Regions from separate parts of the Homo sapiens genome. Here region 1 is linked to region 2. The links come from fine-mapping of genetic effects on gene expression. Tissue or cell type: whole blood. Region 2 holds a variant in brackets; the other region holds the start of a gene. All regions are shown on one strand. Distances are from middle to middle.

Evidence for each region. PIP is the estimated chance that this variant, and not a neighbour inherited with it, causes the effect. A credible set is the group of variants that fine-mapping cannot tell apart.
Region 1: it holds the start of ENTPD2, and the variant in region 2 is the best candidate, but not a certain one, in a credible set for the expression of ENTPD2 in whole blood (INTERVAL, PIP 0.67).

The regions. Positions count from the first base shown.
Region 1 is chr9:137,051,271-137,056,270 of GRCh38, forward strand. ENTPD2 (ectonucleoside triphosphate diphosphohydrolase 2) reads right to left here and starts at 2,791. Exons shown (of 9, transcript NM_203468.3): 1 at 2,611-2,791; 2 at 961-1,078; 3 at 240-390; 4 at 1-100. The coding sequence starts at 2,727. It overlaps LOC105376327 (a long non-coding RNA gene), which reads left to right and starts at 1,075. Exons shown (of 2, transcript XR_930455.2): 1 at 1,075-1,605; 2 at 1,740-2,105. RefSeq lists silencers at 2,777-2,846, 2,947-3,026.
Region 2 is chr9:137,088,087-137,096,011 of GRCh38, forward strand. It overlaps MAN1B1 (mannosidase alpha class 1B member 1), which reads left to right. Exons shown (of 13, transcript NM_016219.5): 2 at 1-97; 3 at 783-919. It overlaps LOC124902338 (small nucleolar RNA SNORD62), which reads left to right and starts at 6,259; the gene lies at 6,259-6,344. RefSeq lists an enhancer at 7,902-7,925. The variant C/T (reference allele first, on the strand shown) is at 4,812.

The DNA of each region.
Region 1 (5,000 bases), 38 kb before region 2:
GCCCGAGAGGATGCGTGCACCCCGGAAGTCAAAGGGGTACTGGGTCAGTGTGTGAGTCACTGCCATGAGCACACTGGTCGAGGCCTCTGGATTGGTCAGGCTGCAAAACACAGAGAACTCCAAGAGGCCTTCTCCCCAGGTGGCTGTGAGCCTGCTGTAGGGGTGCTCGGAGTCCGCCCTGCAAGGGGTCACAGCCAAAGGCCATCATGGGGACAGGGCCAGGGCACAGGCACACTCACTTGAGCAGGCGCATACCCGCTGTGGCTCCCAGGTAGAGGGGTGTGCCCGCGTGTCTCTCTTTGGGCACATCCTGAAGCGCCTGTTCGAGGCATCCAACAAGACTCTGGCTGGCCCCAGAAGGGTTGTCTGCATAGCTGGAGATGCCCCCACCTAGAGGGAGGCAGAGAGATGAGCCTATGCCTCACGGGCAGCCCCTAGGTGGGCCGTAGGCCAGGAGAGTGAGGGTGGGGGTGGGGGCCGTGGGCTCCCAGACCAGGTGGCACACCTTCCCTGCTTAAGCCCCCAGAAACGCCCAGGTTGGAGACAAAGGGGCCCAGGTGCCACCCGGAGACCAAGGCTGCTGCCTGCTGAGAGGGTGTGGGTGCAGGTGCTAGGACAAAGCCCTGGGCATGGTCAACCCAGGTTGGCCTCCTGAGGCCTGCCTGGGTGTGTCCGCCAGGCCCCCAGACCTCCTCCTGCTCCATCTGGGGCACAGAAGCCAATACTGGGCCCGGCGAGGCTCAAACCTCCCCACCTGCTGCCTAGGCTTCCTTTCTAGAATGCAAACGACTCCTGGCCCCACTCAGGCGCAGGGGCACCAGCCTCTCTCTTTCCAGGGCTTCTGCCTGGAGTGAGCCCCACCCAACACTAAGCAGAAGGACCTGCACTGGCTAAGGCTGGAGAGGGTCCCAGAGACCCTGCAGTGAGTGGGCGTCCTGGCTGGGCTGGGCTGGGCCTCACCTGGAACATCACAGGAGCTGTGCTGGCCCACAATGCCTGTGTCGTTCTCCTTGTCTGCCGGCCACTTGTAGATAAACATGGACGTGTGTGAAGAACCAGCGTCCAGGACGATGCCATACTGCGGGGGAGGGGGAGGGAGTCAGCCTGGGGTGTCCGGGGGCCCTGACACCCTGACACCAAACGTGAAGTTGGGTTCCTCCAGTTTGCCACCGCTCCCCCCCCCACCCAGTCATGTGCCAAGCCTCATGCTGAAGCTCAGAGGAGGCCAGGGCCTCCTCTGAGGCCGTGGTTGGAAGGAGAACAGGGAGGTGGTGGGGAGGTGACTCTTCCCTCCTGACTACCTGAAGCCAGCATGCCAGGGTCTGGGCAGCAGCCTTCCTGGCAAGGGCAGACTGAGGGACTGAGTCAGGGACAGAGGGACAGAGGGTCCCCAGGGACTTTTCCCTGGGGCACAAGTTTCCCAGGCTCAGGGAGAGGAAGCTCCTCTGCAAGAGGAGCTCCCTAGAGTCCCTCTTCCTTCCTCCCCTCTTCCTTCCTCCTCTGTCTCCTTCCAGCTCCTCTGACGGCAGCCCAACCTGAGGATGCAGGAGGCAGGGCCCCAGGTGAAGAAGGTCCACCGAGGCTGGCCGTGGGCCTCAGAGCCAGGTCAGCTCTAAAGACACTCTCCCTAGGCCTCCAAGCCAGGGCCAGAGAGAGAGGCTGGCCCTGCCTTGTTGGGGGTGCTGGGTGGGCCTTCCTGCAGACCTGAGTGGCACGAGCTTGTAAATGCCCTTTTCCAGCTCCTGCCCCAGCATCCTGGATCCACCTGGAAAGCTGGGGACCAGCCTCCCAGGCCCGGGCGCCAATTCCAGCCTCCGAGAGGGCCGCACCAGTCCATCCCGACCAAGGCTTCCCCAGAGCCCAGAGCATCAACAGGTCAGCGCGTGCACCGCCACATGGCCGTCCTGCAGGGCCGCAGAGCTCCCTGCTTCTGACTCCCCATCAGGCTGGGGGACTTGGCTCTCCACCCCACCCCCCTACAAGCCCAATAAAGGGTTAAAGGGGCCGACCAGGAGGTCCCTGGGCCTGCTGGAGTGGAGATCCAGGCTAGCCTGCTCCAACCTTTTGAGGACCGGCCAGGGCTGCTCCGGTCAAGCCCTCCTGTCTTTCTGGGCCACTCTCGTGTCCTGGCGGGGGCCCTGGGTCCTGGGGCTTGTGGATCCCCATCTGGGCTGAATACCCAGTCGATGTGGCTCTAACCGCACCCTCCGGGGCGGCGGCACAGGGCAGAAGTGGCCCGGAGTGCCCCTGGGGGCCCGCACAGGCCTGGGGGCGGGCGTCCGGCAGCACCCAGGGGGCATCGCTGGGCTATCCCGGGAGCGGGGACACAGCCCCTGGGCTGCGTTGACGGACTCGGCGGCGGGCGCGGAACTCCCGGGACTTGTTCCTTCAGCACCGCGTCGCCCTGGAAGCGCCACCGCCCCCCGCCCCCTCCGCGTACCCGGTCGGGGAGCGCAGAGCGCGGAACCCGGGACCCCACCCAGCCCGCCAGGAGCAGAGCACGGTGGGGGTCCCGGGCTGATCCTGCTCAGGTTCCCAGCCGCACCCCCTCCCCGGCTCCAAGCCCGGCCCGCTGCTCCCCAGACGTGCGCTGGGTGCCCGGGCGCGCACCTTGAGGGCGGGCGGCTCCCGGACGTCGCGGGTGGGGACGCACAGCAGTAGGAGGCCGGCGAGGCCCGCGGCGGCCAGCAGCAGCGGCGGCAGCAGTGACCGCACCTTCCCGGCCATGGGCGGGCGGGCGCGCGGGAGGACGATGCGTGGACCCGGAGAGTGCGGGGAGCCGGAGGCGGAGGCGGGCGGGGCCGCGGGACCGCGGGGTAGGGGCCCCGGGGCGGGACGAGGGGCGGGAGGCCGGGCGGGCCCGCCCATCACCGGCCACGCCCACGGGCGGACAGGTTTCGCCTCCGCTCCCAAGCTTCCGCCGTCCGGCCCGCGCAGGTGAGAGACGCGGGCGCGGCTGAGTCACCAGCACCGCCCCCCGGCTCCCGGGTCTGAGCCCGGGCGCCCCGCGGCTATGGCCCACCTTCCCCTTCCCGCCCACTCAGCAAGGGGATCCCCCGGCCGTGGAGGCAGGAGACCTGGCGTGGGGGTGGGCGGGCGAGGCTGGCTCGGAGGGTCCTGTGCTGGAGAGCCGCGCTTTTCCCGGGCCCGGGAAAGGAGGCCAGACTCGCTTGCAGGAATGAGGCACTGTCGGCTGCGGAGCCACGCGGGGCCCGGGCTGGGGACTCAGGAGGAAGCCGAGGGTCAGCACCTGTTTGTGGAGCAGGGCCCTGAGCGCCAACTCCCAGGGCTGGTGAGGACCAGGCTGGCCTGCGGGATGCCCTCCCGGCCAGCAAGGATCCGCCAGCCTGCGGCGCTGAGCCAGCGCAGGTCAGCTCCAGAGACACGCAGCTGACCCAGGCCAGAACTACCCTTGAGGCCCAGTCAGATCCACCTCACCTGGGCCCTGTACTGAGGTGAAGGTGAGGACGCAGGAACGGGGAAGGGGAGGGACGGCCCAGGTCACACCGAGCCGAGAAACAGGAGAAGCAGCACAGACCGGGCCAAAGGTCCATACCTCCCAGCCCAGGGCCTCAGCCGCGCCTGCTGCCCCCTCGGCCTGAGGGGAACAGAGGCTTGGGCTGCGGAGGCCAGAGGAGGCTTCCCCAGGACGGAAACAGGTGGGGCCTCTACGTGGCCTGAAAGGCAAGGAAGAGGGTCCCCAGGCCAAGCTTGGGGTGCGGGTCAGCAACAGGCTTCTGGGGACGGCTGGGGCAGGCGAAGCGCAGCTGGCCCCAGACGCAAGCCCTGCTCCTCCGTCCCACGACATGGCTGGCCTTTCGGCTCTGCAGCCTCACAGGCCCCGCATCCCAGCCCGGCCAGGGGCCACCCCCTTTGCGCCTGCTGCAAAGTGGGAATTCTTGTCCCAATAATTCCAGCCACACAGCGTCAGGGAGCCACGAGGCAAGGCCACCAGGGAGTGCAGGCTGCTGGGGCCCAAAGGGCAGCCCCATGGGGCAGGGTCCAGACCATGCCCGGCCTTCTGGAACGGGCAGTGACAATTGTGCTGGGATTGCTGCCTGGGCTGAGGGTCTGGCGCCACAGGCCCAGTAAAGGCATCTTTCTTCCAGCTCAGGACCCCAAAGGGAGGGGTGGGAACCCTGGGAAGCCTCTCTGCTGCCTCAGCCTCACAGCCCAGCCTGGCGGGGCTCCAGCAGGCAATCTCTGGGTGTTGCCGGTGCTAAGCTCCAGGCCCCAGGCCCCAGTTTCCCCCCACACACCCCAGGCCTTTCTTCCACCCCTGACCGCCCAGAGGAGGGAGAGGCACGCACAGTGCACATCATGCCTGAAAAGGAAGGAACAAAGGCCGCCCAGAGGCAGGGTGCTGCGACCCCCACTGGCCTGCGGTACCCCGCTTCCCTCCAGGCCCAGCGGGGCTTCCTGGTGTTCTGGACTCTTTTCATGGACAAAAAGCTCAAGCCAGGGAGTGGGAGGTCTGCCAGGCCTGAGAGGATGGGGAGGGAGAGGGGAGCTGGACTCTGCCCCGGGGAGACAGGCTCATGGCCGAGTGCCCAGCTTCGCCTGCGGAGGGAGAGGCAGGGAGCCCAGAGCGGCCAGGACAAAGGCTGAGGCTGAGCTCTCTTTGAGACGGAGTGAGGGCGGGGGAACGCCCCTTCCTGGCATGGACTCAGGGACCCTGGAAGGCAGACTTGGGAGAGCGTCAGAGGGAAGCTGGCAGGAGCTGAAGGGGTGGAGGGGCCTCTGGGTGGGGCAGCTCTCGGCTTCCAGGACCCTCTCGGGGATGGGGCCTCCAGATGTGCTGCACATGACCCCGGCTGAGCTGGGAACATGCGGATGCAGAGAGGTTAGGGGAGAACCCCTGGGGGAGGGAACTCGGAGCCTCCCGCCCACGCAGGGCTCAGACCTCCCAGGGAGGGGGGCTTTCCTGAGGCCTGCTGACATCTTGGCTGCCCTGCCTCAGTCTCCACATCAGAAGCTTGTGCTGTGTGGCTCACGTCTGT
Region 2 (7,925 bases):
CTGTCGAGATTGCAGCGGAATATGATTCTCTTCCTCCTTGCCTTTCTGCTTTTCTGTGGACTCCTCTTCTACATCAACTTGGCTGACCATTGGAAAGGTATCAGAAACACGTGTACTTGAAAACGATATCTGTGTTGAGGGTTGATTGGGCAGAAGCAATCTTGCATTCTACCTTAAACAGCTCCAGGAGGCATATATGGCAACGAATTGGCAAGAAATCAAGATAAAGAGAAAGGTAGAGCTGTATGTAACCACCTGGCTAGAACACAGATGTTAATTTGATGCTGTCTGACTACTTTCTAGGTCTCTGGTGTAAGTACTGATATGTCCAGCCTCCCTTATAGAGTAAGTCAGCTGGTGGGCTTGAACACTCAGCCTAAATAACCACACAAATTTCGTAGCACTCATTAGCGTGTGTTTGGAAAAGACCAGGCAGAGTTCTGGTGAGGATGTGGAGAATCTCTTCTCACTTGGTCTAAGATGCTTCTCTTTGGAGCAAAGCTAAAGGGCTCCTGCCCACCTGCCACATGCTGAACGTCCCTGAATGGAAAATAGGAAGGCAAAAGATGTGGGGTTCTGTGTTATGGACAAGGACACAAACTGCCAAGTGTTTTGAAAAAGATTTCATTCCCTTGGGACATTGTTGAATTCATTTCAGTGACTATCAGGTATCATAATGTTGATTTGTAATGGATAGTGCCTGCCAAGTGTTTTTATAAAGCAGTTTAAATCTCTTGTAGGCCTTGTGGCATATTTGAAATAAAATAGCTTCTGTTATTCAGCTCTGGCTTTCAGGCTAGAGGAAGAGCAGAAGATGAGGCCAGAAATTGCTGGGTTAAAACCAGCAAATCCACCCGTCTTACCAGCTCCTCAGAAGGCGGACACCGACCCTGAGAACTTACCTGAGATTTCGTCACAGGTACTTTGAGCAAATGGTGTGGGGTTATAACTGGGGTTCAATCCAGAGGCATTTCAAACCACTGAAGATTGAGAAGAATTATTTTCCTTTACCATTTATTACCACGTGTTTACCTCTCTCTCGTTTTGGACTGGTCGGATAATACTTGGGGAAAGAGAGGCGTAGTCTTTGCTTCATTCTTTTTGAAGACCAGCCATGGCCAGTTCCGGTTTTACTTCTGACTGTGCAGTGTTGAATAAGACAGACCTGTTTCCTCTCAAGAGGCCACAGCTGGTAGGAGAGGCTGGTGAGAAGCCAGGCACAGATGGGCAGAGGCAGATGGCACATGGTGTACATCCTATGTGGAAAAGAGCAGGGCGCTGGTGAAGAACAGTGGCTGGTCCTGAGGGTTCAGGGGAGGCCGTGGCACTGAGGGCAAGATCTGAGGGCTGAGAAGCTGCTGGCACCGGGCAAGGTGGGGAGAGGCAGACTTGAGCCTGAGTGAAACTGCCTGAGGCAAGGAGGACCTTGGCATATGCGGGAAGGTGAAATTCCCAGGGCTGGGAGAGGGAGCAGGGGTTGGCTCAGTCCAGCTGTGGTCCTGCAGGTCCTGGAGGCAGCATGGAGGGTCCAGTTGATGTATGCGGGAAGATTTTGGCGTGGACTGGAGGTCTGAGATGTTTACTGTGAAACTGCTCTGGCTGGGTGGAGACACAGTGGAGGGCAGGAGGCCAGGAGAGCTGCCTGGCCGTGGGAAAAGCTGAGTGGGGGGAGGAGTGCTCCGCAGGAGTGGGCCTTGGGAGAAGGAGGGTGAGTCCCCGGGTGGAGGGGCCAGCAAAGGCTGTGCAGGCTCTGGCTTGGGGACACTGAGGAGCTCCGTTTTGGATCTGCCCACTGTGAGATGTCTGGGAGGCGCCATGGAGACCTTGGTGGGCAGGTGGTGCCAGGATCAGAGTCTGCCAGGGGAGACAGGTTTTAGGAGTCCCTAGGTATAGGTGGTTTGTGTCCTCTGGAAACGTTGGAAGAAGGGGCCAGGCCTAGTCCTGGGCACCACCAGGCTGAGAAGATTGGGGTCAGGGAGGAGGGCAGGGGGAGTGGAGACTGGGGATGGGTCAGGAGGCAGCTGGAGAACCAGGAAAACGTCCTGTCAGTGAAGGTTTGGTTCAGGAAGAACAGCCAAATCCCCGACACCGTTGAGAACACCAGGGTGGTGCTGACTCTGGTGTGGCTGCTCGGAACCCTTAGAAGGCCCTTAGGGTGTTAGTTACTGTTGTTGGTACATCTGTGATTGTGTCTAGCAGGTGTGGGAGTGCCTTGGGAGCTTCACCTGTGGCCAGAGTCCTCAGCGCCAGGTGGACTTCCCTGCAGGGCTGTGACAGGGACAGACAGCGCTTTCTAACAGTGGCCTTGGGAGTGGTAACCTGCCGAGGAACAGCTCCTGGGCTGGGGAGCTGGAGGCAGGCTGCTGCCCACTGGCTAAGGATCTCAGCAAGAGGGGCATTGGGGCATTGGCCCCCATGAGCTTGGGCCACCCTCAGACTGCCGTGGGGGTGTTTTGATTTTTTTTTTTTTCGAGGCGGAATCTCACTCTGTCGCCCAGGCTGGAGTGCAGTGGTGTGATCTCAGCTCACTGCAACCTCCGCCTCCCGGGTTCAAGTGATTCTCCTGCCTCAGCTTCCCGAGTAGCTGGGATTACAGGCGCCCGACACCACGCACAGCTAACGTTTGTATTTTTAATAGAGACGTGTTTCACTATGTTGGTCAGGCTGGTCTCGAACTCCTGACCTCTTGATCTGCCCACCTCAGCCCCCCAAAGTGCTGGGATTACAGACATGAGCCACCATGCCCGGCCCTTTGATTTCTTTAACAAGAAAATGTGTCCTTTTAAAATTTCTATAAGCTCAATAGAGAGGGGATGGACAGTACCAAAAAGCAGAAGGAAGCAAACCCACATTCTCCTTTCAAAGGCAGCATTCCTGTCGCTGAGCAGCTTCTCCAAGGGTGGTCTAGCCGGGCAGAGGGTGTAGGGTGGGAATTGGCCCCTAGAAGGTGCCGTGCCTGATGGGAGAGTCCTGCTCTTGATTGGCCATGGGGCCACTGCTCCACACTCTTCGGTGTGAGGATTTCTGCCTTTGACCAAGGTCTTTGTCTACAAATTGAATTTTCCTGACTGGAAAGCCGACAGGTGCTTCCTTTCCTTCTTTGGTCCTTCGTCTCCTTTGCATATGGAGTATCGTAACTGCCTGAGAGCAGACTGTGGTATTTTTTCCATTGAAAGATGTGTTTCCACCACTCACAAGTGACCCATAAGCCAGCACCTAGTGTCCAGGAGCAGCTGGGGTGGTGGATGGTGAATATTTCTGTCTTTCTCAAGCATTGACTTGGAGACATCCTGCCCTCCAGGGATCACTTGCACTGCCTCTCCTGTTCAGACCCTGGCACTTGTCTAGACCTGGTTAGGGATGAGGCTGTGTTTAGGCCAGATCCCTTTCTGTTAACGTTTTACTTTGGTTGAGTTCAAATTTTTTTGTTTTATATTTTTTTTTTTTTTTTTTTTTTTGAGACAGAGTCTTCCTCTGTTTCCCAGGCTGCAGTGCAGTAGCGCAATCTCAGGTCACTGCAAGCTCCACCTCCCGGGTTCATGCCATTCTCCTGCCTTGGCCTCCTGAGTAGCTAGGACTACAGGTGCCCGCCACCACGCCCGGCTAATTTTTTGTATTTTTAGTAGAGACGGGGTTTCACCGTGTTAGCCAGGATGGTCTTGATCACCTGACCTCGTGATCTGCCCGCCTCAGCCTCCCAAAGTGCTGGGATTACAGGCGTGAGCCACCACGCCCGGCCTTAAAATTATTTAATAGAGATGAGGTCTCACTATGTTGCCCAGACTGGTCTCCAACTCCTGAGCTGAAGTGATCCTCCTGCCTCAGTCTCCTGAAATGCTGGGATCACAGGCATAAGACACCACACCTGTCTGATTTCAAATGTTATAGGGGCTTAGGAGAGAAAATGGGAACATTGAGAAGGTATAAAGGGGAATACACAGCCACACATTACCCCTGTTCCCAGTCCAACTCTTGAAACACTTGGTATATGTCTTTCAATTTATGTGGCTGGGTATGGTGGCTCACACCTGTAATCCCAGCACTTTCAGAGGCCAAGGCAGGCAGATTGCTTACGCCCAGTCTGGGTAACACGGTGAGACCACCATCTCTACCAAAAAAAAAAAAAATTAGCCAGGCACGACATGCCTATAGTCCCAGCTACCTGGGAGGCTGAGGTGGGAGGATCGCTTAAGCCAGGGAGGTTGAGGCTACAGTGAGCTATGATCCAGCCTGGATGACAGGGAGACCCTGTCTCAAAAAATAATAATAATAATTTTATTTGGATAAACACATGTATACATCATTGAGGGTTAGGGGCTGGATTGGTATTTGGATACACACGTGTGTACGTAATTGAGGGTTAGGGGCTGGATTGGTCCCTGTTTCTTTTTTTATGCACATGAGAATATTCCCTTTCATACAGATTTTTATAGCTCTTCTCCATTGCTTGGATAAACCATCATTTTCTAAATCATTTATCTGTTGATTCTTTCTTCATTTGTAAATGTCCCCATTACATCCGTTGTACGTAAACTATTAAGAGTTAAAGGTTGTGAAGATTTTGATGTCCTATGACGTGTATCATGACAAACTATTCCCGAATTTGCTTCCCCTGCTACGGTGCTGAGAGTAGCAGTCAGTGGTGCCATGGCAGCACTGGGCATTCTCGTGTCGGCAATGTTTCCAATGCAACAGTCAGAAACTGGCGCCTGCTTTTCGTGGATGCTTGTGTGTCTTGCCTAGAAGCAGGGACACTTACAGGAGGGGAGAGGTGATGAACGGCCCTATGTGCTCCCATCCCGGAAGCTGTC[C/T]GTGTCCTTTGATGAGTCTTAGGACTTTTATATTTTCCTTTATTATTGGTATTCCCTTTATTATTAGTATGACTGTTGTGAGTTAGAATATTTCATCCTTTACCAAGTATGCTTCTTATGACTTCATCCGGCTTAGAAATTAGTTTTAGAGAACTTTGCTATATAGTAGCAGTAATCAATTAGAAAATGTTATTGAAAAGAGATCTCAGGAGGTTGCAGTGGCTCACACCTGTAGTCCCAGCACTTTGGGAGGCCGAGGCAGGCGGATCACTTGAGGTTTGAGGTCAGGAGTTTGAGACCAGCCTGGCCAACATGGTGAAACCCCATCTCTACTAAAAATACACAAATTAGCCAGGCGTGGTGGTGCGCACCTGTAATCCCAGCTACTCAGCAGGCTGAGGCCTGAACTGGGAGGTGGAGGCTGCAGCAAGCGGAGTTCGCACCACTGCATTCCAGCCTGGGTGATAGTGAGACTCAGTCTCGAAAAAGAAAAGAAAAGTGATCTCCATCACAATCACAAGAAAAGAATGCCACCAAGTCCGTAGGAGTAATCCTGATACTAAAATATATAAAGTCAGTATAAATAAAAGTACAACACTCAAGGTATTTGAAAAGACCTAAATAAGTAGACATTTTATTCTTCTGCTGTGAAGATTTAAGCAGTGGCTCACGCCTGTAATCCCAACACTTTGGGAGGCTGAAGCGGGTGGATCACAAGGTCAGGAGATTGAGACCATCCTGGCTAACACAGTGAAACCCCGTCTCTACTAAAAATACAAAAACAAAATTAGCCGGGCGTGGTGGCAGGCACCTATAGTCCCAGCTACTCGGGAGGCTGAGGCAGGAGAATGGCGTGAACCTGGGAGGCGGAGGTTGCAGTGAGCCGAGATCGCGCCACTGCACTCCAGCCTGGGCGACAGAGCAAGACTCTGTCTCAAAAAAAAGAGAAAAGATTTAAGTTCTCCCTAAATTCATCTGTAAATCCATTGACTCCCTATCAAAATTCCAACCTCTGTTTTTAAAGATGATTTTAAAATTCATATGGAAAGAAAATTTGGGAGTAAAACTCAGATGAACTTCCCTACAAGATCATAAAACTGTGATCATTGAACCCATGGTGATTTTTTTTTTTTTTGAGACAGAGTCTCACTCTGTTGCCCAGGCTGGAGTGCAGTGGCACAATCTCCACTCACTGCAACCTCCACGTCTCGGGTTCAAGTGATTCTCCTGCCTCAGCCTCCCAAGTAGCTGGGATTACAGGGATGTGCCACCACGCCCGGCTAACTTTTTGATTTTTTGTAGAGGTGGGGTCTCACTTTGTTACCCAGGCTGGTCTGGAACTCCTGGGCTCAGGTGATCCTCCTGCCTCGGCCTCCCAAAGTGCTAGGATTACAGATGTGAGCCACTGCACCTGACCCTCGTAACGGTGATTTTTAAGACTAGGTGATCTTAGTGACATAATTCTAATAGTTTGTTCCGACCTTCCACTGTGGACTCAATAGCAGGGAGATGAAGAGGACAGTGATTGCATGACCTGGTGGAGAAGAGACTAGAGAAACACAGTGGAACTAGTGGCTCACATCTGTCATCCCAGCACTTTGAGAGGCCGAGGCAGGCAGATTGCTTGAATGCAGGAGTTCGAGACCAGCCTGAGCAACATAGTGAGACCCCATCTCTATTAAAAAAAAAAACAGGCTGGGGCCAGGCATAGTGGCTCATGCCTGTAATCCCAGCGCTTTGGGAGGCTGAGACGGGTGGATTGCTTGAGACCAGGAGTTCAAAACCAGCCTGGCCAACATGGTGAAATCCTGTCTCTACTAACAATACAAAAAATTAACCTGGAGTGGTGGCGGGCGCCTGTAATCCCAGCTACTCAGGAGTCTGAGGCAGGAGAATCACTTGAACCCAGGAGGCAGAGGTTGCAGTGAGCCAAGATCACGCCACTGCACTCCTGCCTGGGCAACAAGAGTAAAACTCTGTCTCAAAAAACAAACAAACAAAAAAAACAGGCTGGGCATGGTGGCTCATGCCTGTAATCCCAGCACTTTGGGAGGCTGAGGTGGGTAGATCACCTGAGGTCAGGAGTTCGAGACCAGCCTGGCAAACATGGTAAAACCCCATTTCTACTAAAGATACAAAAATTAGCCAGGTGTGGTGACACGCGCCTGTAATCCCAGCTACTTGGGAGGCTGAGGCAGGAGAATCGTTTGAACCCAGGAGGTGGAGGTTGCAGTGAGCCAAGATTGCACCATTGCACTCCGGCCTGGGTGACAAAACAAGACTCTGACTGGGATTACAGGCGTGCGCCACCACGCCTGGCTAATTGTTCGTAATTTTAGTAGAGATGGTGTTTCACCATGTTGCCCAGGTTGGTCTTGAACTCCTGACCTCAGGTGATCCACCTGCCTCCCAAAGTGCTGGGATTACAGACGTGAGCCACCGTGCCCAGCCATAAGTAAGCATTCTTTCCTTTTTTAAAAAAAAAAAAAGTGGAGCAATCTAAATATCCATCAGTAAAGAAGTACAAAATTATGGCTTGTGCCGGGCATGTTGGCTGCAACCTGTCATCCCAGCACTTTGGGAAGCCAAGGCAGGAGGAATTCGTGAGGCCAGGAGTTTAAGACCAGCCTGGGCAACATAAGGAGACCCTGTCTCTATAGTAATAATAATAATAAAAATTAAGGTTTGGTAATACCACAGAAAACTGAGGCCATAGGAGAGAATGGATTTGCCTCTAGACTCACGTAGGAGGACCTAAGCCTCAGTCCGTGACACGGTCTGCAGCTTTCCCACGCTCCTGTTCACGTGGGGAAGGGAGCAGAGGACGGGGCTCTGTGCCTGCAGGTGTGGAAACAGGGAACAGGGTGGTGGGGGCTGGCTAGAAGGCCCGCATCACACAGCAGGGGGCGCCTGGCAAGGGGAACCCAGCTCCATATGTCATCGGAAGCTTTGTGCTTTGTAGTGAGGATGTGGGTGCCTGCCTCACTTTGCAGATGACTGTGCGGGAGGCCTGGGGACCCAGAGGTGTTGCTGGAGCTGGTGTTTACTGCAGCCCTTTGTTATTAACGCTTTAGGACCTGTGAGAGTTTGGAAATATTCCCACCGTGGGAGGGG